3 separate regions of the Homo sapiens genome follow, and regions 2 and 3 are each linked to region 1. Evidence: fine-mapped expression QTL. A gene starts in region 1. Each other region holds a variant in brackets. All regions are shown on one strand. Distances are between the middles of the regions. Region 1 holds the start of MRPL19 (mitochondrial ribosomal protein L19). Region 2 overlaps GCFC2 (GC-rich sequence DNA-binding factor 2). Region 3 overlaps GCFC2 (GC-rich sequence DNA-binding factor 2).

The links. PIP is the estimated chance that this variant, and not a neighbour inherited with it, causes the effect.
Region 2: its variant is the best candidate, but not a certain one, in a credible set for the expression of MRPL19 in thyroid (GTEx, PIP 0.51).
Region 3: its variant is the best candidate, but not a certain one, in a credible set for the expression of MRPL19 in amygdala (GTEx, PIP 0.64).

Annotation. Positions count from the first base shown.
Region 1 is chr2:75,641,209-75,652,150 of GRCh38, forward strand. It overlaps MRPL19 (mitochondrial ribosomal protein L19), which reads left to right and starts at 5,575. Exons shown (of 6, transcript NM_014763.4): 1 at 5,575-5,702; 2 at 5,894-6,011; 3 at 10,934-10,942. The coding sequence starts at 5,600. It also overlaps the pseudogene SUPT4H1P1. RefSeq lists enhancers at 5,375-5,669, 5,505-5,804.
Region 2 is chr2:75,672,497-75,683,176 of GRCh38, forward strand. GCFC2 (GC-rich sequence DNA-binding factor 2) reads right to left here. Exons shown (of 17, transcript NM_003203.5): 12 at 7,697-7,818; 13 at 948-1,024. It overlaps LOC124906025 (a long non-coding RNA gene), which reads left to right. Exons shown (of 2, transcript XR_007087113.1): 1 at 1-7,356. Among named protein-coding and RNA genes, the nearest start is that of MRPL19, 31 kb to the left of the region's middle. The variant T/C (reference allele first, on the strand shown) is at 7,729.
Region 3 is chr2:75,683,647-75,689,039 of GRCh38, forward strand. It overlaps GCFC2 (GC-rich sequence DNA-binding factor 2), which reads right to left. Exons shown (of 17, transcript NM_003203.5): 10 at 5,380-5,393; 11 at 4,181-4,331. The region is part of intron 1 of LOC124906025 (a long non-coding RNA gene); the gene reads left to right. Among named protein-coding and RNA genes, the nearest start is that of GCFC2, 25 kb to the right of the region's middle. The variant A/G (reference allele first, on the strand shown) is at 2,823.

The DNA of each region.
Region 1 (10,942 bases):
TGTTCATCAAGCAACCCCTTCCATATGTGACATTAAATTTTGCCTTCCGAGAGAGAAAGTCGTGGTCACAAAGACATAAATGTTCTGGTATTCTGGTCAGCATATTATTTTTTGTTCACTTATAAGTTAATAAACTAGCATTTAGTTTTGTCATATCAATTTCAAAAATTTGGTTCATGTAAGTCTGCCCTAAATGATGTATCTATTTAATGCTGTGCTGAAAATCAGGTTCTGGGCTTCCAAAATCAAAAGTCAGACCCAAGGCCATGACAAATTCTCCAAAGTCAATATTATCTGTGAGGCCTTGAAGTATATATTTTGCCTGGATGAAGGAACTTCATGTTGCCACATAAGCTCACCCCCACCACACATACACTCCTTTATTCACTATCTATTACTATTTAATAAATTGCTCCTAAATTAAGCAGCTTAAAACAACAAACATTTATTATTGTACGGTTCTGTGGGTCAGAAATCCAGAAGTGGCTTAGCTGAGTGATTTTGACTCCAGGTCTTTCACAATGCTGCAATCAAGAGGTTGGCTGGGGCTATAGTCAACTCAAGGCTCAACTAAGGGAAGGTCTGCTTGCCAGCTCATTCCTGTGGCAAGAAGCAGCCTTGCTGGCTGTTGGCTGGGGACATTGGTTCCTTGCCATATGGACCTTTCCATAGGGCAGCTCATAACAGGTACCTGGCTTCCCTCAGAGTGAAGCAAAGGAAGTAAGAACTATCATAGTCAGTGCATTTGTGTTTTTATTTTATTTTTTTAAATTTATTTATTTTTTCGAGATGGAGTCTTGCTCTGTCGCCCAGGCTGGCATGCTAGTGGCGCGATCTCGGCTCACTGCCACCTCCGCCTCCTAGGTTCAAGTGATTCTCCTGCCTCAGCCTCCTAAGTAGCTGGGATTACAGGTACGCCACCATGCCCTGCTAATTTTTGTATTTTTAGTAGAGACGGGGTTTCACCATGTTGGTCAGGCTGGTCTCAAACTCCTGACCTTGTGATCTGCCTGCCTCGGCCTCCCAAAGTGCTGGGATTACAGGTGTGAGCCACCACGCTCAGCTGTGTTTTTAAAATAGTGTATTGATTTTCATTGTAAAACCAAAATGTACCTATTACAGAAAATGTAGCTAGAAAAATTGCAAAAGCAGGGAACACGCTTAATCTCACCACTCCATCTATGCTTTGTGATACTTAATCATAAATTCTATGTCTAGGTGAATGTCCAGAAGAGTATGCCCTAGGCTTTATTCTAGGATTTTTGTAGTTTGAGGTCGTACATGTAAGTCTTTAACTCATTTGGAGTTAATTTTTGTATGTGGTGAGAGGTAGTGGTCTAGTTTCATTCTTTGGCATATGGTCAGCCAGTTTTCCCAGCACCGTTTATCGAATAGGATGTCATCTCCCCACTGCTAATTTTTGTAGACTGTTGAAGATTAGTTGGTTGTAGGTATGCGGCTTTATTTGTAGGTTCTCTATTGTGTTCCATTGGTCTGTTTGTTTCTTTTTGTACCAGTACCATGCTGTTTTGGATACTGTAGCCTTGTAGTATAGTGTGAAGTCAGATCATGTCATTCCTCCTGCTTTACTCTTTTTGCTTAGGATTGCTTTGGCTATTTGGACTCTTTTTGGTTCCACATGAATTTTAGAATTGTTTTTTTTTCTAGTTCTGTGAAAAATGATAGTAATTTAATAGGAATGTCGTTGAATATGTAAATTGCTTTGAGCAATATGGACATTTTAGTGACATTGATTCTTCCAATCCATGAGCATGGGATGTTTTTCCATTTGTTTGTGTCATCTATAATTTATTTCAGCAGTGTTTTGTAGTTCTTGTTGTAGAGATTTCATCTCCTTGATTAGGTGTATTCCTAGGTATTTTATGTTTTTGGTGGCTATTGTAAATGGGACTGCATTCTTGATTTGGTTCTCAGCTTGAACACTGTTGGTGAATAGACATACTACTGATTTTTGCATATTAATTTTGTATCCTGAAACTTTACTGAAGTTGTTTATCAGGTCTAGGCGTCTTTTGGTAGCATCTTTACGGTTTTCTAGGAATAGGAGATTCTTTTTTTGGATGTGTTAATACATGAATCAGATTATAGTTTCCTCTTGCTGGCATCTTTAAAATAAGTTTTACAAAAAGCTTTTTTTTTTAATTAGGTGAAGGATATGTTAATTAGCTAAACTGTGATAATCATTTCACATTGCATACATATATCAAATCATCATGTTGTACACCTTAAATATATACAAATTTTTATCTTTCAATCATGTCTCAGTAAAGTTGGAAAAAAAGAATTTTATTATGATCTATACATTTATCTGCAAACTTTATGCATTATCACAATTTAATCCTTATACCAACCCAATGAGGTAGGCATACCTCTATCCTATTACCCATGAAGAAGAAAAGGCAGAGATGGGAACCTCTCTCAAAGACTCCAGTTAGTACATTTCAGAAATTTTTTTTACTGACTCTACCTCACAAATAGATGGAGAGACAGAAAAAAAAATACCACTTTCTATCTCTATTGCCTCTACCTCAATTGTTCCCAAATTGGAACAACTATCAGAATCACCGGAGGATTTGCTAAAGCACAGATCACTGGGTTCTGTGCCCAGAGTTTTAAATTCAGTAAGTCTGGGGGCGGGACCTGAGAATTTGTAATTTTAACACGTTCCCTGGTTGTGCTGATGTTGCTAGTCAAGGGCTCACACTTTAAGAACCATTTTTTTTTTTTCTGTTCCAGGTTAGCACCATCTCTCTTTTGGAATATTTCAATAATTTCCTGCTTCCCAGCCATTTTCTAAAGTACAATCAGAATGATCTATCTAATTTTACTTAGAAATATTTATTGGGTGCCAGATACTCTACTAAATATAGAGGATGTAATAACAAGCAAAACCGACAAGGATCCTGATGTCACAATAACCTGAAGCAGCCAGTTTGCCTGGAATACTTTCTTCCCTTGGCTGAACATTATGTAATGATGTTCATGATCTCCTTTCCAAGGGTGTAAAACACAGAAGTAAATAATTAAAGTTCTATTCCTGTGATCAGCTCATAAAATGGTTGAGCCAGCTCTGTGCTCTTTGATTTTGCTCTATGAAGTTGTTTAATAACAACTTAAGTTGGAATAATTTAAACTCCAGCTTGTTCTCCAAATTAAGATAAGGTCAAAACGGCCTGATATATGTTGGATGAGCAAGAATACGGGAGAAAATTAGATAAGATTCTTTAGGTTCATTCTTCCAATTTTGTAAAACTCTACACAACTATTCCTTCATCTGTGGAAGAGGAGAGGGCAGCAGGAGTGGCTTGGCAATGTCTAGTAAATCCTGCTGTCCTCCTGTGAAGGTCTGTCTTTTATTTCTCTGCCCCTACCTTTAGGACCAATCCCAGCAAGAGTGAAGGCCACGTGTTCTGGGCATGGTTAATACAGAAAAATCTTCACCACTGCCAGTCATGATTATCTTTGCCTCTCCTCCCTTTTACTCTTAAGGGCTTGAAGTCTACTTTTTCGGGTAGGTAGAAGAGCCAAAATATTGCTCATCTGAAATTTTGGTTGTGAGATTCCTTGTCATTTATAGAATAAATTCTTGTTCTAATCAAAGAAGCTAGAGTTAAAATAGAAGGCCCTGTCTTTCTTCACAGCATCTTGAATTCTGTGCTCAAAACATGGCCCTGTTCCTCAGGCTGATGTAACAGCTCATGTTCTTCAGGATGGCAAGTCAGAGTATAGAGGCCAAGCTGCAGAGGTTGGTTGCTTTTATGAGCATTTGACTTCTGTCAAAAGTAAACAGTAAGGCTTTAAACTGGGGAAAGGAAAGAACAGGGTATGCATTTCTGAGCCATCTTTTTTTGGTTGCTGCGTGAAGGACTGGAGGTAACCAGAGGCAAGAAGACTAATGAGAAGGCTGTTGCAGGGATCTCCAGGGATCCTGAAGAGAGAAAATATGTTGACCTAGATTGGAAATATGGATGGGAGGATGAGAAAGTATATGGATTCCTGAGATATTTGACGGTGTCAGGCATAGTTTTTGGAACTTCATCCAGGAGGAGACAGGGAGGAATCAAGAATGGCACTGAGATTTTTGGCTTAGGCAAGAGAGTGGATGCTGAAGCCATTCCTTGAGATAGCCAATACTGGGAAGGAAGTCTGGAGCTGAAAAAGATGAACTCAGTATGGATAGGCTGAATTTGAGGTAGCTTTGGGACATTAATGCAACTGGAATGACTATTATGTAGTTAAATTATCACATTACTCTAAGTGTTCAATCCTTATATAACCACTGCTGAAATAACAAATTCCAAATTTCTTTTTTTGTGTGTGTTTCTTTTTCTGTTTTTTTGAGACGGAGTTTCGCTCTTGTTGCAATGGCGCGATCTCGGCTCACTGCAACCTCTGTCTCCCAGGTTCAAGCGATTCTCCTGCCTTAGCCTCCCAAGTAGCTGGGATTACAGGAGCCTGCCACCACACCTGGATCATTTTTTTTATTTTTGGTAGAAACGGGGTTTCACTATGTTGGCCAGGCTAGTCTCAAACTCCTGACCTCAGGCGATCTGCCCGCCTCGGCCTCCCAAAATGCTGGGGTTAAAGGCGTGAGCCACTGCGCCCGGCTGTGTGTTTGTTTCTTAGAGATACGGTCTCACTATATTGCCCAGGCTGGTTTCCAACTCATGAGCTCAAGGGACCCTCCTGTCTCGGCCTCCCACAGTGCTGGGATTACAGGCATGCCTGGCCACGCCCAGTCATTTTCCAAATTTCTTAACAAGACTTACAATTTACCTTTTCCAGCTTTACTTCTCCCACCTATCCATACCCACAGTTGCCCAGCCCAAATTCATTTGGGTTCCTCAAAGGGTTAATGCTTTGTGTAGTCTCAAGGACTATGGGCCAGCAGTTCTGTCAGGAACTATTCTATTCTCTTTTCTGTGCATTCAGCAAAGAATTAGAAAAATTAGCTGGGCGTGATGGTGCGAGACTGTAGTCTTGGCTACTCGGGAGGCTGAGGTGAGAGGATCTCCTGACATCAGGAGTTGGAGGCTGCAGAGCCATGATCGCGCCACTGCACTCCAGCCTGGGTAACAGAGGAAGACCTTGTCTCAACAAAACAAAAGATGTTAGTGAGGGCCCAGGTAGGTGCTAGGTGCTGGGATAACATGGTGAGCAAAAAGAAGACTTTATCCCTTCCCTTGCCTCATTATAGTATAATGGCAGATTTAAATACTAATCTAATAATTACACAAGAAAGAATTGCAAATGAGATCAGAGCTGCCAATCGAAGGCACCCAGTGGGAAAGACGGCCTACAATGGGATTTTCGCATAGCGAAAGCTTGTCTGAGAAGATAGAGTGGATTCATAGGGGGAGGAAAAAGCTTTCTAGGCTGGGAGAACACCCCTGTGGAGGGGTGTAACTTGGCGCATTACGAGGAACTAGAGAAACGTGCACTTTTCCTAAGACATCAGGAAAGGAGCGAGGAGAGACTTATCCATTTTGTCCCATAGCAGCCGCCATATGGTGGCAGACAGCAACAACCTCGTCGCACTGATTACTGGGAGCTGTAGTCTTGACGTGAGCTAGCTGGCATGGCGGCCTGCATTGCAGCGGGGCACTGGGCTGCAATGGGCCTAGGCCGGAGTTTCCAAGCCGCCAGGACTCTGCTCCCCCCGCCGGCCTCTATCGCCTGCAGTAAGTGGAGCCGGACTTGCGAGCTGGGGCGCGTTAGGGGCCCAGGGTCAGGATGGGGGAGGCGAACCTGGAGATCAGAGGCAACCCCAGCGTTGGTCCCCCGTGGGACGCCGGGTTGGGGGAGATTGCGGGGCTCTGCGGGATCTCAGGGTTGGCACGAGAGTTCTGACCTCCGTCGTCCGCTCCCGCAGGGGTCCACGCGGGGCCTGTCCGGCAGCAGAGCACTGGGCCTTCCGAGCCCGGTGCGTTCCAACCGCCGCCGAAACCGGTCATCGTGGACAAGCACCGCCCCGTGGAACCGGAACGCAGGTGAGGCACTGCCCTGGCGCTAGGCCGGCAACTGGGGTCGGTGCGCGCGTGAGCGCGTTCGCGTTCGAGGTCCCGGCTCTAAGGTGGGGGCTGCACCTCCCCCTGCACGAGCAGGTGTGTAGGATTCAAGAGCCAGCGCACCACACTGTTCTTTCTTTCTCACTTCTCCCCAAGCCAGCATTGAACTTCTTTGCAGTTTTATTGAGTCAGAACTTCAAGTAGGGGTTCCCCATATTTTAAACTCTTTTCTCTGTGGTATTTGTCCTGTACCAGAGTTTTTCTCTGAGGTATATCCTGTTTATACCTGTTTACGTCCAAGAGCTCTTCTTTTCTCTCAAAAGACCCTTAACCCTGGATAGGAATCGATTGGCCAACTTAAAAAATTTGCTATGGTTTAGGTTGGAAGTTTTGGCAGACAAAGCACAGTAAAACTGGCCACTAAATTGTGTCTGAAACTTACTCATCAAAATAGTGTGAATAAAAACTTATATGAATGGTGGTAATCTTGGAGGTACATGTAAATTTAAAGGACTTAAGGTCTGAAAAGAGAGCTATGTAGCAACCTTTTTAAAAAGCCAGTTTTCAGAGGAAAAACCTGATATGATTATAGGCTTTTTGAAAGGGCTGTAGATTATTGATTGGATTACTTCTGGGATTTTTAATTTTTTTATTTTTTAAATTTTTTTTAGACAGAGTCTCTCTCAGTCTCCCAGGCTGGAGTGCAGTGGTGATTTTAGCTCACTGCAGCCTCAAATTTCTGGGCTCAAGTGATCCTCCCGCCTCAGGCTCCAGAGTAGCTGGAACTACTGGTACCACGCCTGGCTTTTTTTTTTCTTTTCTTTTTTTAACATTTAAAATATTCCACGGATTTAAATAGAAGTAAACTTGGAGTTAGAGAACTAAGAGATTCAGAAAATATTTCTTCATAAAACTTTGCTTTTGAGGGTAGAAATGGAATATCTCTTTTAAACAGTGGCATTTAATAGAATTCACTTAAATAGGAATGTAAATTATATGCTCTAGAGAACAATTTGACAGAATTTACTAAGTTTAAGTTGTGTATACCTTCTCACTCAGAAAGCACACAACTTAAACTCCTAACGTGTATGTACAAGGAGACAAGCACGAGAATGAATGTAACAGTATTTTTTGTAACAAAATTTAGAGGCAGCCTAGATATCCATCAGTAGGTGAACAGGCAAATACATTCATATGACAGAATATTGTATAGCAGTGAAAAATGAGTGAATTAGAGCTCACTTTTAAACATGGAAGATTTTCACAAATCTGTGTGTAAAAAAAACCTTTAGAATCATTAATGTAGTAGGATGCTATTTTTATGAAGTTTTAAAACTATAGGCCGGGTGCGGTGGCTCACGACTGTTATCCCAGCACTTTGGGAGGCCGAGGAGGGCAGATCACGAAGTCAGGAGTTCGAGACCAGCCTGGCCAACATGGCGAAACCCCCATTTCTACTAAAAGTACAAAAAAAAAAAAAAATTAGCCAGGTGTGGTGGCATGTGCCTATAATCCCAGTTACTCGAGAGGCTGAGGCAGAAGAATTGCTTGAACACAGGATGCCGAGGTTGCAGTGAGCCGAGATCGTGCCACTGCACTCCAGCCTGGGCGATAGAGCAAGACTCTGTCTCAGAAAAAAACAAAAACAAAATTATACGAAACAATATATGTTGCCCAGACATACATGCATATGAAAAGTAAAAAGAAATGTAAGGGGGGCCTTCTGAAACTTTGCCAAACAGTCAAACCTAACTTTACCAGTATTGGTACCAGTTGATATTATGTGTCTCCTGATGTGACAGAATAAGTTGTTCACATCATCTCCCTGTAATATTCTTACTAAAATTATTTAACCTTAGTCTAGGCATGTGGAAACAATCCAGAATCCAGAGATGAGATAGTAGGCCTTGACTGTTCAAAAAAGTTAATGTTATAAAAATACAAAGTTGGAAAAAAGTCCTAGTCTGAGAGACTAATGACCAAATATGTGTGAAGCTTGATTGTATTTTGAATTGGGCAACGAATAGATGTAAAATACCTTCCCAGGATAATGACATACATTTGAGTATGAACTCTGTATTAGACCAAGCTTGTCCAACCCACAGCCCAGGACAGCTTTAAATGTGGCCCAACACAAATCTGTAAACTTTCTTAAAACATATGAGATTTTTTTTGTGCCTTTTTTTTTTAAGCTTACCAGCTATTGTTGGTGTCTTTTATGTGTGGCTCAAGATAATTCCTCCAGTGTGTCCCAGGGAAGCCAGATGATTGGATACCTTTGTATTAGATTATGTTATCAAATTAATGCTGACTTTTATAGGTGTCAGAAGGGTATCGTGATAATATAGGAGCAAGTCCTTATTCTTAGCATAAGCCTTCTAAATTATTGAGGGATGAAATGCCTTGCTGTTCCATTTTTTTGAGACAGAGCCTTGCTTTGTCATCCAGGCTGGAGTGCAGTGGCATGATCTTGGCTCTGCAACTCCTACTCCTGGGCCCCTCCCTACTCAGTCTCCCAAGTGGCTGGGACTACAGGTGCCCGCCACCATGCCTGGCTATTTTAAAAATTTTTTTGTTGTAGAATGAGGTCTCACTATGTTGCCTAGGCTGGTCTGGAACTCCTGGGCTCAAACGATCTACCCTCCTCGGCCTCCCAAGTGTTGGGATAACAGACGTAAGCTACCACACCTGGCTGACATTTTCAAATGGTTCAGAAAAAAATGATATGTGTATATAAAGCAAATATAGCAAAATTTTAGCAGTTGGTAAAAGTGGATGAAAGATCTACAGGTGTTCATTGTATTACTATTTTTTGGTAGGCTTTAAAATTTTCAAAGTAGAAAATTGAGGAAGAGAAAGAAATTCATGGGAATAATCACCAAATTTAGGATAGTAATGAACTATCCTAAATACACAGGGGCTTCCACAATATTGATAATTTATTTCTTGAGGTGGGTGGTAAAGACATGAATATTCATTGTACTGTCATTTATACTTTTTATGTAGATTAAATATTTCATAATGAGCTTAAAATCAGTTAAAGAAGAAAAAAAGAAGATTATTATTTTTTAAGCAAAAGGATTTCACCTTTGTAAGACTTACACAATTTTCACATAGCTTCATTTCTACAATCACAACAATCCTGAGGTAAACAGGCAGGGTCTAATCATTCTCTTTTTACAGAGGGAGAACCAGCAACTTAGGGAAATCAAAACGGGGACACTAACAGGATTTCTGTGGAAATTTAAGTAAATGAGAATTTATGGTGAATTTTTTATTCTAAAACGAATACCTCACCTTGGCCAAAATGGGACATTACCCAAGGTCCCCTACTAGGCCAGAGGAGAAAAGGAAGGACTTACCTCCTACAGAGGCACAAACAAGGCAGACTAGGACCCAGCAGTTGCCTAAGGCCCAAGGGTCTCCAGTTAGGAGAATGTGAAATGCAGGGATGTGAGACTGGCCTAAGGTATAGGAAGAGCGGTAAACAGAAGAGAAGAGACGAGGAGGGGGAAAAGCAAGAATTATTAAACGTGGTCAAGGAGCGAAGAGCACTATGAAGCCTCAGGATTTCTTCAAGGGATACTGCTGTGCCAGGTCTAGAGGGCAGAAAGATACAACCACGAGACCCCAGGACTACCAAGCTGATGGGATTACCTAGCCTCTGGACAGCACCTTCTGATTGGAAGCAAGGAAGCACACTAGAAAGGCTGCAGTACAGAAGGCTCAGAGACAGTCAGTAGGGAGTAGAAGGGCCTCTGCTGTTCTGGGAAGATTCTTACAGCATAAACAAGCTCTTACTGTGCCTAAGAGAAAGGGAGAGGGAGGCAAGGAATGTATCATGGCCTTAAGAACTTTCTAGAGGTTCATATTTATTGGCATTTGACCTAGAGTCCTTGCCATGGGCAAGGTGCATCCCTGGGCCATGGATAGGAAAATCAGCATCCTACTTTCTCTTCAGTTCGATCTGTTAATCCACCAACCCAAATCCCTCCCACCCGCACCTGTCATCCAAGGAAGAGAAAATGGTTCAGGGACACGATGTGCTGCAGCTGTGTCTCTGGATTTGTAGGTCTCTCCTCGACTTTTCAGCTCCTACACGATTCCTTGGGGCAGGTGACCAGTGAATGACACCGCATATGTACCTGGCTTAAAGTTACTGACTCGCTGCCACTTGGAGACCTAGCTGTCCTCTGGACTCATCATTGCAATGATTCCATCAAAGGAAGAGCTAGTGCAGTCATATACCATCTCAGTTACTCTTCGTCTGTAGATAGGTGTTACAGTTGTCAGAACCTTCATATTCAAACTGGTCTATAGTCTTGACCAGCAAACACAGCCAACAAGCCTGCAGATGCCCCAGGTCCTTCAGCACCATCTCCAGGGCCATCTTCTCTGATCAGGAAGATCATTTTAAAAGTCAATTTATAATTAGTGATTTATATGTTGATGTCTTTTCTGACATAATTTATTATAGCATGTATAGCTCAGTGTGAGGCCTGTAGTAATGGTTATAGGCTTTGGAGACTGACCAACATACCTACATTTAAATCTTGATTTGACAGATTTATAGCTAATGTAGCAATGGGTTAGTTATTTACCTTTTTCAAGCTTCAGTTTCTTGCTCTGTAAAAAGGAGATGACACCAAACCCACATGGTTGCTAGAAGGATTAATTTATGCTATAGATGTTTCATAAAGCTTTTAACAAAATACCAGGTGAGTACTCAGGAATTGTTAGCTATTTTCATGAGCATTAACAATTTTAGAAATAAGATTGACTTTTATTTAGACAATGAAGAATAAAATACATCAATATCATATTTAATTTCTTTGAAAAGCAACAATTTTTCTTCTAGCAGCCTTTTGAGTTTACTTTTAATTATTTATTTGTATTTTTTACAGGTTCTTGAG
Region 2 (10,680 bases), 31 kb after region 1:
TCAGAAAGCTTTGAGGTTCCTTTCTTCCCCCTCCATAAAGCTCCTCCATCCTGTCACTACTCACTGGATTGCTACAGTTCATGCATCATTATAACTGATGGCTTCTTAGCAAAGTTATGATCATACATCAAATACTCGTTTTATAATTTAAAGTGACTGCAGAATTTACAGGTGCAGTTTCTCGTTCCTCAGCATTGTGCTTCCTCTGTGCTAGGCCCTGTTGTGTTCTGAGCATTCTCTTCATCTCCCTAATATCCTGTGAGGTAGGCACTAATTTTATCCTTATTTTATAGATGAGAAAACAAGTGCATAAAAATACCTACTAACAGTGGACGTGTGCTCTTTACCACTCTATATCACCTGCTATGTTCCTAGGATATATGTAAAACCAAAACCAAAACCAACCAAACAAAATTCATCTAAGCGCCAAGATAAAGCACGGCTTTATGTAAGTCACTGAGAAATATTTGTTGAAATCTCAATTTGCATCCTCATAGAGTATGTGTACACATGTTTTGAAAACACTATAGTTGGCCGGGCGCGGTGGCTCACGCCTGTAATCCCAGCACTTTGGGAGGCCAAGGCGGGCGGATCACAAGGTCAGGAGATCGAGACCATCCTGGCTAACATGGTGAAACCCCATCTCTACTAAATATACAAAAAATTAGCCGGGCGTGGTGGCGGGCGCCTGTAGTCCCAGCCATGGGAGGCTGAGGCAGGAGAATGGCGTGAACCTGGGAGGCGGAGCTTGCAGTGAGCCGAGATCGCGCCACTGCACTCCAGCCTGGGCGACAGAGTGAGACTCAGTCTCAAAAGAAAAAAAAAAAAGAAACACAAAAAACAAAACAAAAAATAAAACACTGTAGTTTCTTTTGCATTGCATTCTTAAACAAATCTGTATTCTATGATCAGCTATTTCCAACAATCTAGAAATTAACAGCGCTTACCTCTTTGGATACAGAGGAATAAAAACATCATCTTCTACTGCCTTTTTCATTCTTGAAACAATGGATTTAAGTAAATCCTATTATTACAAATTTGAAAAGCATCAGTGATAGAAGATAGAAATGTATTTACCAAAAAAAAAGTAATTTTAACTGCAGTACAAATTTATCCACACTCACATAACCAGCTGTTAAAATAACTATCAATTGGGTACAAAAAAAACCTTATTTATCCATGTTGCTACATATGGGTATAGTTGGATCAATTTCATTGCTATATAGTATTTTGTTGCATGAATACTATTGATGGAACACTTAGGTGATTTCTGGTTTGGTGGCTATTATAAATAATGCTGCCATAAAAATTCTTGTACATGTCATTTAGTATGCATGGTCATACATTTCTAATGGGTATATAAATAGAAATGGAATGGCTGGAGTACAGTTCATGTCCATACGTTCAACTACGTACAAAAAACCAAACGGTTTCTAGAATAGTGGCATCCCATTTACATCATTCCTGCAGTATAAAATAAATCCTGTTTCACTACATACTTACGATAATTGGCATTTTCTTGTTTTTTAATGTTTGCAATTATAGTGGGTATGCAGTCATATTTCATTTTGTTGTTTTAATTCTCATTTAATTATCATTGAGTAATGTGCTGTTGGGCATCTTTTCATATTCCTATTTGCCACTTGGCAAGCCGTTTTGCAAAGTACCTAATTAAGCTGCTTGCCAACATTGCTATTTTTTTGTATTAGGTTCTGTCTTTTTATTACTGATTTGTACAAGTCTTTTATATACTCCAGCTGTGGGTCCTTTGTTGGAAAATCCACTTAGGGAAATCCATTTTGTTTGTACATAAAAAAATTGGAAATGACCAAACTATTCAATCACAGGGAATTTTAAGGAGATGTTACATCGCTCCAGTGAATCTATCATAAACTTTAGCTGAAGATTATGATGACTACAGTAACAGACAACTATAAATACGCAATGAGATAACATTAAGCAGAAGTAGTATACTAACTTACATGCCTATTAGGATTATAACTTTGAAAAAAAAGCCAGGATGAAAATATCCTACGATGGTATTAATCCTTGTACTAGGATGAAAGACAATGAGTGTTTATTTTTTTCATATATTAGCAATATTTATATTATTTATATAATGATATTCTTATTCATATTTGAAAAATAAAAATGGCATACTACACATTAGAGTAAAAGTTAATTTTTAAGTCAATGACAATGTATACAGCACAAATTCAACTGTCACATACTATATACTAACTGAATTATCCATAAATGTAGAATTCAAATATATTTTTCTTAAAAAGCATGACCTGAAGTCGTTTCTCTTTCCACTTAATTATCTATAACATATTCCTCAAGTGGCCATATATCAACATTTATTTAATGTTAAAAATTAAAACTCAGTTGTATTTTACTCCATTCTTTAAACATTCTGAATTCTGTTCAAAGAAAAAAAAGCATTTTCTAGACAGTATCTCCAAAAAATAGCATCTGAGTTTATGTAACTTACTGAGTTAGGTGTTCATGATACAAAAAAAGCTGCTTTGATTTTTTTCATTTAATTTTAATGATTTTGGATGCTGGCCTTGACAAATGTTCCCATATTGTTTAAATTTTGTTTCTTAAAATAGTTCTATTGAAAATGTTATAAAGGACATTATTGAATCAACTGGCAAAAGTGGAATATGGATGGTAGATTAAGTGTTGATAAATTTACTGAAATTGCTAACTACTCTGGTTATATAACATAATATCCTTGTCTTAACAAATATGCACCCTGTTCTCAGTACTCAGGAGAAAACATATTGTATGTATATATTTAAAATGGAAGGGCTAATGATAAAGCCAATGGGGCAAAATATTAATGACAAGTAAATCTTGGTAAAGGGAATATGGAAATACTACTCTTATTCATGAAAGTTTTCTTTCAAAGTATTAATATTTCCAAATAAATTGTTTAAAACAAAACATAAATTCACTGGCCGGTTGCCGTGGCTCATGCCTGTAATCCTAGCACTTTGGGAGGCTGAGGTGGGTGGGTCACTTGAGGCCAGGAGTTTGAGACCAGCCTGGCCAACATGGTGAAACCCTGTCTCTACTAAAAATAGAAAAAATTAGCCACACATGGTGGCACATGCTTGTAATCCCAGCTGCTTGGCAGGCTGAGGCACAAGAATCGCTTGAACACAGGAGGTGGAGGTTGCAGTGAGCTGAGATTGCACCACTGCACTCCAGCCTGGGTGACAGAGTAAGGTTCTGTCAAAAAAAAAAAAAAAAACAAAAAAAAGAAAAGAAACCTCCCATAAATTCACATATTTTAAAACCGTGAGATATTAACTTTTCTAAGTATTAAATAACATCATTTGTTTGATGGAAAATAAGGTTCTCCAAACAGTTTTAACAAGCATTCTGAATCACACTTTCAGACTCACATACAACCCTTTGTGTATATATATATACTTTGAAACAGCTTTAAAGAGGCACTTGTGTGATGCCAATGGTTTTTATGCTGTTCTCTATATCCATGGAGGTAATCCCAGGATGGCCTGGACAAATGTTGGGGATGGTTGGGGAAGAATAAAGGCAGGTGCTCACAACAGTAGGAGCAGTTTTACTTCTGTATGTGTGTTTGCGTATCGGATTGCGTAAGATTTATTTGAAATAGATTCTGTTGATAAAAAAGAAAAAACAAAAAATGAGTCTGAAAATCTATCTGAACTCCCAAGTGATGTTTAGACTTATTTTCACATTTCTACTAAATGGTCCACCAGCCATGTCTAAAACCATTTGCTGATAGGGGATCATTATCTCCTGAGGCTGCCCATAACTTTGGACTATTAGATTTCAGTTAACAATGAGAGTTAACAAACTTTTCCCTCCCACAGCTTCCACTCCTTGGTCTTGGTTTACTTCTTGGGATCATATAGAATAGAACTAGCCCCACTTCCACATGACAATTTTCTAGATTTTAAGATGAATATCATACTTTTTTTTTTTTTACATCTTCTCTTTCCCATACTATCTTAAGACACTCTCCACTTAATATGCTTACACCGAAAATTAAATGCAATATTCCCAGGAAGGTCTAATCTGTGGGTATTATCACCAAATATGCCATTCTTACTCAAAATAGCACACACATACTAGGAGAAACTCCCATGTACCTGTTTTCTGTTACTCAAGTGACACTGCTGACTCACGCTGGGTTTATTGATTATAATCTGTCTTACTTATGCTGCTTCAAAACTGTGTCTCTCTCATCTTTTACTTATATAGTTGAATTTTTAAACGCATGGGTGGGACATGCATTTATTTTTTCACAATTTCTTGAATCAGTCAATTTTCTACAATCTTTTGAAATCTTCTTGGATTCTAATTCTACCATCCACAAGTCTTACAGAATTCCTAGCTTTTTGTCACTGACACATTTCATTAGTATGTATTTTAACTCCTTATCCAGTTCAATAAAAATATTGAACAGGGCAAAGCTGAGAAGATATCTAATACTAACAGACTCCCCATAGGTAGCCAATGCCCTACTGGCCATTATTTTTTAGGTTTACTTAAGCTTATATTTCCCCATTTAATCCCTAAGAACAATCATAATAACAATTTGCTTCAATAAACAATGTTAAGTATCATTTGTATTTGGGAATCCTATCAATGACAGATTATAGTAATTACTGCTTTTTAAATTTAAGTATTCATAATCTTCCTCTATAATAATTTACTTTAGATTTTTAGTCAGAATCAAAACTATTATTACCAGGCATTAGCTTACAGCATTTCCTTCTAACTTTGAAAACAGAAACTATGTTGTCTGACTCAATTTTCATTCTTGAACCTCATTCTCTTTCATCACTGAAGAAATGGAGTGATCCCACTGGTGAACTGTCTTAGCAACATGGGGCATTATATAGTGTAAGTGATTCTCTACCAAGTGCCATTTTGCCATCCCTAGGGAATACCTGACAATGTGTAGACATTTTTGGTTGTGAAGACCGGGGAGTGCTACTGCCACCTAGTGGGCACAAGCCAGGGATGCTGCTAAGCATACTATAGTGCACAGGACAAACCCTCACAACAAAAAATTATCTGTTCCAAATGCCAATGTAGTGCTGAGACTGAAAACCCTGATGTAATCTATTCTCCTGCTTATGAAAACAACCCATTTTCTACATTCACAGCAGAGCGGTTTCAGAATAAAAACATCCATTATAAAAACTGCTTGAGTTTGCCTGTAATCCCAGCACTTTGGGAGGCCGAGGTGGGCGGATCACAAGGTCAGGAGATCAATACCATCCTGGCTAATACAGTGAAACCCCGTCTCTACTAAAAGCACACAAAATTAGCCAGGCATGGTGGCAGGTGCCTGTAGTCCCAGCTACTCGGGAGGCTGAGGCAGGAGAATTGCTTGAACCTGGGAGGCGGAGGTTGCAGTGAGCCAAGATCACACCACTGCACTCCAGCCTGGGTGACAGAGCAAGACTCCGCCTCAAAAAAAAAAAAAAGACTTCATGAGTGAATCCATAATACTGCTGAAGGGCTTCAGTGATCACAAAGAGCCAGGTCTACCACTTAGTATTCAAGTATTTCAAAAATGACTTAACCCTTCTGGGCCCCAGCTTCATCTGTAAAAATGCAATTAAAATAAATACATTTCACAGGGTTATGAGGATCAAATGAGACAATGTGAAAGTATTTAACAAATGGTAAAGCATAATGATTTACATTTAGGTTATAACTAAACAATACTATATGGAAAGCAAATGCAGGATTATATATCTGCTTCTTTGTAGCTTTTAACTACTAATCTTGGTTCTATGCTGCATAACAGCACAGAATAAATCTATACCTTCTTTGAATACAAACAGCATCTCTCTGTACATCTTTCAAATTAAATATCTCTAATTCCTGCAACAGTTTCCATCTATTTTACTTGAGTTTTTATCCTATTGGAGGTAAGCAGAAAATGCCTCTCTCTCTGTTGCCACATGTTGAAATCCTATTCTTTCCCTCAAGCCACAGTTCAAATGCCACCCCTAAGATAAATTATTTCCTTATCCCCACTGCTGAAGGTAACCTCTCTCTCCTGTCTCTCTCCTGAAGACACAGTACTTTATCTATGCTGCTCAAGGGGAGGCAACATGGTCAGTGAGGCAAACTTGGGCTTTAGAGGCAGACTATCCAAGTTCAAATCCTAGTGCTCATTCATAGTAGCACTGTGACAACTAGTTTTAAAGATTCATTTTCTTCATCTATAAAATGAGGCTGTCATCCTTTTAAGAGACAGGGTTTTGCTGTTGCCCAGGCTGCAGTGTGGTGGCACAATCAAGGCTCAATGCAGCTTCAACTCCTGGGCTCAAGGGGGAGCCCAGCTAATTTTTATTTTTTTGGTAGAGATGGATCTTGCTATGATGCCCAGGCTGGTCTTGAACTCTTGGCCTGAAGAGATCCTCCTGCCTCAGCCTCCCAAAGCACTCAGATATACAGGCGTGATCTGCCATACCTGGCGATCACCCATTTTTTAAATAGGGCTGCTGGGATTAAGATGACAGGTACAAGACCTTACAGAGTGCCTAGTACACAATTGGAATTAAATAAGTGTTTGTTATCTTCCCTACTTCTCCTTTTCACTTCCAGTTTTAAGTTACAGTTTATGTGCATCTTATTTTCTCTGAGATTACATGCTTCTTGAAGGCAGAATTAGGCTGGTATCCCTTTTCTCCCTTTCATTTCTTACAGCTATCCTCCTTTGTAATCACAGTTCCAAGGGCTAAAACTTAATGGTGCTCATAATATGAATATGATATGCCTCCTTGCTTTTCAACCACCTCTGTCATTCTACTCCGGGCATTCTCCAGTCTGTCAATTTCTCCTTAATTTCCTAAAGCTCAACCTAAAATTGGTTTACTCATAAAACTGCATGAATCTACAATCTCATCAACAAACAATAAAAAAAAATGCTACAATGAAAGAGTGAGAAGATTCTCAGCAACATCACTCTAAAAAGTTCCCCAATATGTCTTATGTTCACTGAATTCAATTCTAGATCATTGTAAGATTAAGATCTGTTTTACTGAACTTTGAATCCTTAAAGAGACTACTATTATTTGGTAGACTACAAATAACTAGTTAATACAATAAGTGTCAGTCTAATTTTGAAACCATTGTTCAAGCAAAGCCACAATGCCACTGGATTTTTGCCAAAAGAACAAAGGTAATGAGTATTGTTGTCTTCCTTTAGAAGAAATGAATTTGCACTAATGAATTTATACCGGTTCATCTCTGCAGGGCCAGTGTATATTCATAATCCTGAAAGATGGCTGCCTGGGCCATGAGAACACAAATCAGATCACTGAACAGAGAAAAGTAAGCTAATAGGAATGAAAGTCATAATCTGGGTCCTTACATGTATGTCTATAATTTAAAATGATTACCACTCCTATCACAGTGTTGAGAAGTATCAAGGTATATTCTTTCATCTTATTATTATAAAGATAAAAAATAGCCAAGTCCAGTTTAAAAAATTTTTTTTTCATCTCAGTGCAGTCTGAGAAAAAGTCTAGTTTCTATAAATCAAAAGTAAATATGTTTTCCCCCAAACAGTTTTCTGATAATCACTTCTGCATCTTTTATAAACCAAGATCTGTAAGAAAATTATAATGATTTAGAGATAGATCATGGAGTTCGCAACTCTAGAAATTATTACCTGTCTGCTTTTACTAACTTCATTTTCACAAG[T/C]GGAATGTTCTTCAAGAATCACTCTGCAATGTGTTATTAAACTTGTTGTCTGTGAGGTTGACAAAGGATCCCAAAGGAATTCTACAAAGTCTGAAACAAATATTTCAGTGGTACACAATGTATTTACTAGATTGTTTTGCTTTTCATATACAAATAATCAAGACCTTTAACAAACACTACTTCCCTCCTTATTCAGTTTAAGTTCCATGGCCAATTATTACCATTACATATTTGCATACATCTTCAATTTCCTTGTTCTTCTTGGGCTTTGTTAAACTCCTCTGGCTAAACTACAGCTCTTTATAGTTAAGTTCACCTTGTCACTGAGTCTCTGCCTGCAACCATGCAGATAAAAAGTGGCTGGAAAAACAAACACATTAACTTGATCACTATACAACTTGAGTGAGCCTCTCTCTCTCTCTGTCTCTCAGGTCCATTCACTCTCCCTCTCACCTAGATGATTACTTCATACCTTCTCCCCTCTCCGTTATCTCTCTCTCAGTTGATGGACTTTTTCCTTCTAGATGATTATTTCCTACTTTATTTTTTCTACTCCCTTGCATTCTCTTTCAGCTAATTACTTCCTAATTTGCTAAGAAAATAGAAGCAATCAGAAAAGCAGCACTATGAAGCTCCTACCACAGCATCTACACACCTACCTACATCTGTGCCGATATGCTCTAACTTGTCTCCTATTCCTATGGATGAGGCACCCACACTCCCACCACTTCAGGCAAACTGTTTATTTTGTGGATGAGATCCCAAGCCTTTTGGCTTAGTCTAAGATCCTGTTCCCAGAACACTGTCCTTCCACTTTGGTATTGACATCACTTGTACTAGATTTTTTCCATCACCCTACAAACAACTATTTATCTTGTATTAAAAATAATCCCCCTCAGTGTAAGGAGGCTGCCAAGATGGCCGAATAGGAACAGCTCCAGTCTACAGCTCCCAGCGAGATGGACGTAGAAGGCCGGTGATTTCTGCATTTCCAACTGAGGTACCCAGTTCATCTCATTGGGCCTGGTTGGACAGTGGGTGCAGCCCACAGAGGGTGAGCTGAAGCAAGGTTGGGTGTTGCCTCACCTGGGAAGCACAAGGGGTTGGGGAATTCTCTCCCTTATCTAAGGGATGCCACGAGAAACCGTGCCAGGAGGAACAGTGCACTCCAGCCCAGATACTGTGTTTTTCCCACGGTCTTCGCAACCGGCAGACCAGGAGATTCCCTCCAGTGCCTACCCCACCAGGGCTGTGGGTTTCATGCACAAAACTGGGTGGCTGTTTGGGCAGACATCAAACTAGCTGCAGGCTTTTTTTTTAATTTTTATTTTTTCATACCCCAGTGGCACCTGGAACGCCAGAGAAACAGAACCATTCACCACCCTGGAAAAGGGGCTGAAGACAGGGAGCCAAGTAGTCTGGCTTGGTGGGTCCCACCCCCACGGAGCCCAGCAAGCTAAGATCCACTGACTTGAAATTCTCACTGCCAGCACAGCAGTCTGAGCCCAACCTGAGATGCTTCAGCTTGGTAGGCGGAGGGGTGTCCGCCACTGCTGAGGCTTCAGTAGCCGGTTTATGCCTCACAGTGTAAACAAAGCCACCGGGAAGTTCGACCTGGGCAGAGCCCACCGAAGCTCAGCAAGGCCACTGCGGCCAGACTGCCTCTCTAGACTCCTCTTCTCTGGGCAGAGCATCTCTGAAAAAAGCCAGCAGCCCCAGTCAGGGACTTAGAGATAAAACCCCCATCTTCCATGGACAGAGCACCTGGGGAAAGGGGTGGCTGTGGGCGCAGCTTCAGCAGACTTAAACGTCCTTGCCTGACAGTTCTGAAGACAGCAGTGGTTCTCTCAGCACAGTGTTCGAGCTCTGCTAAGGGACACACTGCCTCCTCAAGTGGGTCCCTGACCCCTGTGTATCCTGTCTGGGAGACACCTCCCAGTAGGGGCCGACAGACACCTCACAGAGGAGAGCTCTGCCTGGCATCTGGCGGATGACCCTCTGAGACGAAGCTTCCAGAGGAAGGAACAAGCAGCAATCTTTGCTGTTCTGCAGCCTCCGCTGGTGATACCCAGGCAAACAGGGTCTGGAGTGGACCTCCAGCAAACTCCAGCAGACCTACAGCTGAGGGGCCTGACTGTTAAAAGCAAAACTAACAAACAGAAAAGAATAGTATCAGCATCAACAAAAAGGATGTACCCTAAGAGACCCCATCTGAAGGTCACCAACATCAAAGACCAAAGGTAGATAAATCCACAAAGATGGGGAGAAACCAGTGCAAAAAGGCTGAAAATTCCAAAAACCAGAATGCCCGTTCTTCAAAGAATCACAACTCATCACCAGCAAGGGAACAAAACCGGATGGAGAATGAGTTTGACGAAGTGACAGAAGTAGGCTTCAGAAGGTGGGTAATAACAAACTCCTCTGAGCTAAAGGAGCATGTTCTAACCCAATGGAAGGAAGCTAAGAACCTTGAAAAAAGGTTAGAGGTATTGCTAACTAAAATAACCAGTTTAGAGAAGAATACAAATGACCTGATGAAGCTGAAAAACACTGCATGAGAATGTCGTGAAGCATACACAGGTATCAATAGCTGAATCGATCAAGTGGAAGAAAGGATATCAGAGACTGAAGATCACCTCAATGAAATAAAGCGAGAAGACAAGTTTAGAGAAAAAAGTGAAAAGAAACAAACAAAGCCTCCAAGAAATATGGGACTATGTGAAAAGACCAAATCTATGTTTGATTGGTGTACCTGAAAGTGATGGGGAGAATGGAACCAAGTTGGAAAACACTCTTCAGGACATTATCCGGAAGAACTTCCCCAACACAGCAAGGCAGGCCAACATTCAAATTCAGGAAATACAGAGAACACCACAAAGATACTCCTCGAGAAGAGCAACCCCAAGACACATAATTGTCAGATTCACCAAGGTTGAAATGAAGGAAAAAAAG
Region 3 (5,393 bases), 40 kb after region 1:
GGCAAATTGAATAAAGTGTCAAGACCCATCAATGTGCTGTATTCAGGAGACCCATCTCATGTAAAGAGACACACACTGGCTCAAAATAAAGGGATGGAGGAATATTTACCAAGTAAATGGAAAGCAAAAAAAAAAAAAAAAAAAAAGAAAAAAGAAAAAAAAGCATGAGTTGCAGTCCTAGTCTCTGATAAAACAGACTTTAAGCCAGCAAAGATCAAAAGAGACAAAGAAGGGTATTACATAATGGTGAAGGGATCAGTGCAACAGTAAGAGCTAACCATCCTAAATAAATACGCACCCAATACAGCAGCACTCAGATCAGATTCATAAAGCAAGTTCTTAGAGACCTACAAAGAGACTTAGACTCCCACACAATAATAGTGGGAGCCTTTAACATCCCACTGTCGATAACAGACAGATCAATGAAACAGAAAATTAACAAAGATATCCAGGAATTGAACTCAGCTCTGGACCAAGCAGACCTAATAGACATCTATAGAACTCTCCACCCCAAATCGACAGAATATACATTTTTCTTAGCACCACATCACACTTATTCTAAAACTGACCACATAATTGGAAGTAAAACACTCCTCAGCAAATGCAAAAGAATGGAAATCATAACAAACAGTCTCTCAGACCACAGTACAATCAAATTAGAACTCAAGATTAAGAAACTCACTCAAAACCGCACAACTATATGGAAACTTAACAGCCTGCTCCTGAATGACTACTGGGTAAATAAAGAAATGGAGGCAGAAGTAAAGATGTTCTTTGAAACCATGAGAACAAACACACAACGTACCAGAATCCCTGGGACACATTTAAAGCAGTGTGTAGAGGGAAATTTATAGCACTAAATGCCCACAACAGAAAGCAGGAAAGATCTAAAATCGACATCCTAACATCACAATTAAAAGAGAGGATGTGGAGAAATAGAACACTTTTACACTGTTGGTGGGACTGTAAACTAGTTCAACCATTGTGGAAGACAGTGTGGCGACTGCTCAAGGATCTAGAACTAGAAATACCATTTAACCCAGCCATGCTATTACTGAGTATATACCCAAAGGATTATAAATTCATGCTGCTATAAAGACACATGCACATGTATGTTTATTGTGGCACTATTCACAATAGCAAAGACTTGGAACCAACCCAAATGCCCATCAATGATAGACTGGATTAAGAAAATGTGGCACATGTACACCATGGAATACTATGCAGCCATAAAACAGGATGAGTTTATGTCCTTTGCAGGGACATGGACATGGATGAAGCTGGAAACCATCATTCTCAGCAAACTAACACCAGAACACAAAACCAAACACTGCACGTTCTCACTCATAAGTGGGAGCTGAACAATGAGAACACATGGACAGGGAGCGGAACATCACACACCGGGGCCTTTTGGGGGTCAGGGGACTGGGGTGGGATAGCATTAGGAGAAATACCTAATGTAGATGACAAGTTGATGAGTGCAGCAAACACTATGGCACGTGTACACCTATGTAACAAACCTGCACGTTCTGCACATGTACCCCAGAACTTAAAGTATAATAATAAACAAACAAAAAATCCCCCTTAGCCCTACTTCCTCCTCTAGTATTGTTCCATTTCCCTCCTATCTTTTACAACAAAATTCCTCAAAGTACTATCTAAACTTCTATCTCCAGTTTCTCTCTTCTCACTTGTTCTTGCTTTCCCTTTAATTAGGCCTTATCTCTTATCAGCCTACCTAATGCGCTCTTAGCAAATCACAGATGACATTCACATAGCAAACTCCAATGATTGATTCTAATCCTCATCTGACTTATCATCAACAATTCCAACAGTTGACCCTTCTTTCTTCCTAGAAACACTGTCTTTACTTGGCTTCCAAAATACCACACTCTTAGTTTCCTGCCCACCTCTCTGGTCTTTGCTGTCTGCTTGTCATCTCTTTGACTTCCCAGTGCTATAGTATCTCAGGATTCAGGTCACTTACCTTCTCTTTTCGGTTTATATTCACTCGCTTGGTATTCAAAGTCAATTTTATACATTAAATGCCATCAATAAATGTCATGTGGATAAATTCCAAACTTATACCTTCTGACTGGACCTCCCCCTTTAAGACTCATGTATTCAACAACTGACTTGACATGTCCACTTAGATTACAGGTACTTCAAAATCAACATGTCCCAAACTGAGCTGCTATGCTAATACAGCTCCCCACATTAAGCTTACTCCTGTCAGACTTTTTCATTTCAGGAAATGGCACCTCTGTCCTTCCAGTTGCTCAGGCCAATTCCTCAATGGACCCATTCTTGATTCCTCTCTTTCTCTCTTGCTGCACAACCAATCCATTAGCACATTCTGTTAGTGCTATCTTTGAAATATATGTAGAATTCAATCACTATTTGGACTCAGTCAGTGTTAATTTCTCACAAAGCTACTTATTTGTGGGACTGTTTCATCATTAGTATTTAGATTTTTTCAGCAGAGTGCTTAAACTAGGCACATGCATTCTATCATTAGTAGAGTTAGTTAAAAATAGTAACTTTCTAACACACCCCACAAATGCACCATAAGTTTCATTGAAATAAAATCTTGAAAGTTTTTATTTTTTATTTTTTTTAAATTTTAAATTTATAAATAGAGATGGGGTTTCACCTCGTTGCCAAGGCTGGTCTGGAACTCCTGTGCTCAAGCGATCCTTCTGCCTCGGCCTTGCAAAGTGCTGGGATTACAGGCATGAGCAACTCCACCCAGCCAAAATCTTATAATCAAGTTGCCTAAGAAGCAATTATAAGGCTAATTGCTTCCAACTTCTAGGCTGGGC[A/G]TGGTGACTCATGCCTATAATCCCAGTGCTTTGGGAAGCTTAGGGGAAGGGTCTCTTGAGGCCAGGAGTTTGAGACTAGCCTGGGCAACAGAGCAAGACCCTGTCTCTAAAAAAATCTTTTAAAAATTAGCTGGGTATGGTGGCACGCGCCTGGAGTCCTAGCTAATTGGGAGGCTGAGGCAGTAGGATCACTTGACCCCAGGAATTCAAGACTGACTTGAGCAATGTTCACACCACTGTACTCCAGTCTGGGTGACAGAGGAAGACCCTGTCTCAAAAACAAACACACAAAAAATTAAATAAGAGTTTTGCAGTCTTTGCTGTCAAATTTCTTTCTCAGTGACATAGTGAAACGGATCCTTATCAAGTACACAGGTAAAACAAAAGACTTCATGCTAAGGTCTGAAGCACAAGCATTAATGTTAAGTGCTCATAGCTGCTAGTGGCAAATGTGAGTGAAATGAAGCAATTTTTTTTTTTTTTGAGACGGAGTTTCACTCTTGTCACCCAGGCTGGAGTGCAATGGCACGATCTCGGCTCACCGCAACCTTCGCCTCCCAGGTTTAAGCAATTCTCCTGCCTCAGCCTCCTGAGTAGCTGGGATTACAGGTGCCTGCTACCACACCCAGCTAGTTTTTTGTATTTTTAGTAGAGACGAGGTTTCGCCATGGTGGCCAGGCTGGTCTTGAACTCCTGACCTCAGGTGATCTACCTGCCTTGGCCTCCTAAAGTTCCAGGATTACAGGCATGAACCACCACTCCCAGATGAAGCAATGGTTTTAAAGAAAAGGATAAGAAACACAATTAGAGAAGTTAAGGGGAAAAAAGGACACATGTAGTATGGATGGAAGTGTGCTAAAAAATGACTGAAGTGCCATAAAAGCAGCGGGAATGCCACAAACACTAAACTGACTTTAAATACTAAGTGACTGAAGTAAATAGAACAGAGAAGGTAAGTGACCTGAATCCAGAGATACTGTAGCACTTGGAAGTCAAAGAGGTGACAAGCAGACAGCAAAGACCAGAGAGGTGGGCAGGAAACTAAGAGTGTGGTATTTTGGTAGCCAAGTAAAGACAGTGTTTCTAGGAAGAAAGAAGGGTCAACTGTTGGAACTGCTGATGATACGTCAGATGAGGATTAGTGATCAATCTGAGTATTAGCAGTTTGGTAGCCAACCACCTGTACAAACACAAATTTTTTAACCACCTTACATTTGACAGCTGTTGATTTTTACTACATATAACATTTCCTTGAGATTAAAAACTTATGAAAAAACTTTGTGAATATAACAGAAATTAACAACCTTATATACTCTGTCAGAAAATAATTTAATTTTACCAAGGTTACGAAGCAGTACCTGTAAGTCGGGGAATAATTGTTTTGTTGATGATTGCAGACAAGACTTTTTTATCTGAACTACTTTCCTTCTTTGAATCTTCCACACTGCTATCCATAAATTCTTCTACAGATTTGAACCATGGCATCTCTTTTAAACCTGTGGATTCCAACTTACAAAGAAAATTACAAAAGTTATAAAGAAATCTTTCAACATTAGTGTATTTTTAAATAGTTATTATTTTTTTCAATAATCACCAGAGCTTTTCTAAGGATCAGAAGAGATTAATTCCCTATTTTAACACTAGACCACCAAGGCTAGGCAGGATTGCAGGACAGCATGACTGAGACATGGTGTCTAAGTAACATAAGAAGAAGCTGCATTTCATGCATTCAATCACACAACAAACACTCAACAACTACCTAGTGTGTGCCGGAGCCTTTAGACCCTACCACATGGCAAGTACTCTGCTTGGAGCAAAATACAAATTTGTTAGGCACTTGAAACAGCCATGGAATTTGTTTATAAAAAAAATTCATCCACTTCAAGCAAAGTTTATTTCTGGCCCCTTCAATTCACTAAGCATAAATATGTAATTTGTATGTGATTTAGTTAAAGGTCCTATTACACAGTAGGCAGTTGCTGAGTTCATACTTCTTTTTTTTTCTTTTAGTCAGTCAAATTCAGTGAACAGAGTTTATATTCCTTAACTTAGGATCTAAATATCTGTGCAATTTCTAGCTCCTGAACTAATACTTCTCCCTTTACACCTTTATGAAACACCTTTCCCTTTCTGATTCATCCTGTTTACCCCATAAACTCTTCAAAGGCTTGCATTCCACCTTCTCAACACAACCCTAAGCAACTCTTCCCAGTATGTCATCTCCAACTTAAGAATTCTTGAAACAAGGCTTTTATATCTACTTTCTCCAAACCCAACAGTACCTTATACTTTCTGGGAGGATTTTAAATTTAATGTACAAGAAGCTAAAAAAAAATGTGTTTGCTTTACTGATGTTAATGATGCTTAGCCTAAAAATCAAGTGACAGCCAAGAAAAGAAGAATGTAGCCGAAAGCACACATTTTCTGACTATTGTTCCAAAGCTCTAAATTTCAGCTCCGACTCTAAGGGTAAGGTATTTAATGCCTAACACAATAGTAAGGGAATTTAAGCAACTAATATAATCAGGATAATTTTTCATATGTTAAGCATAAATACCTTAAGAGGATTCC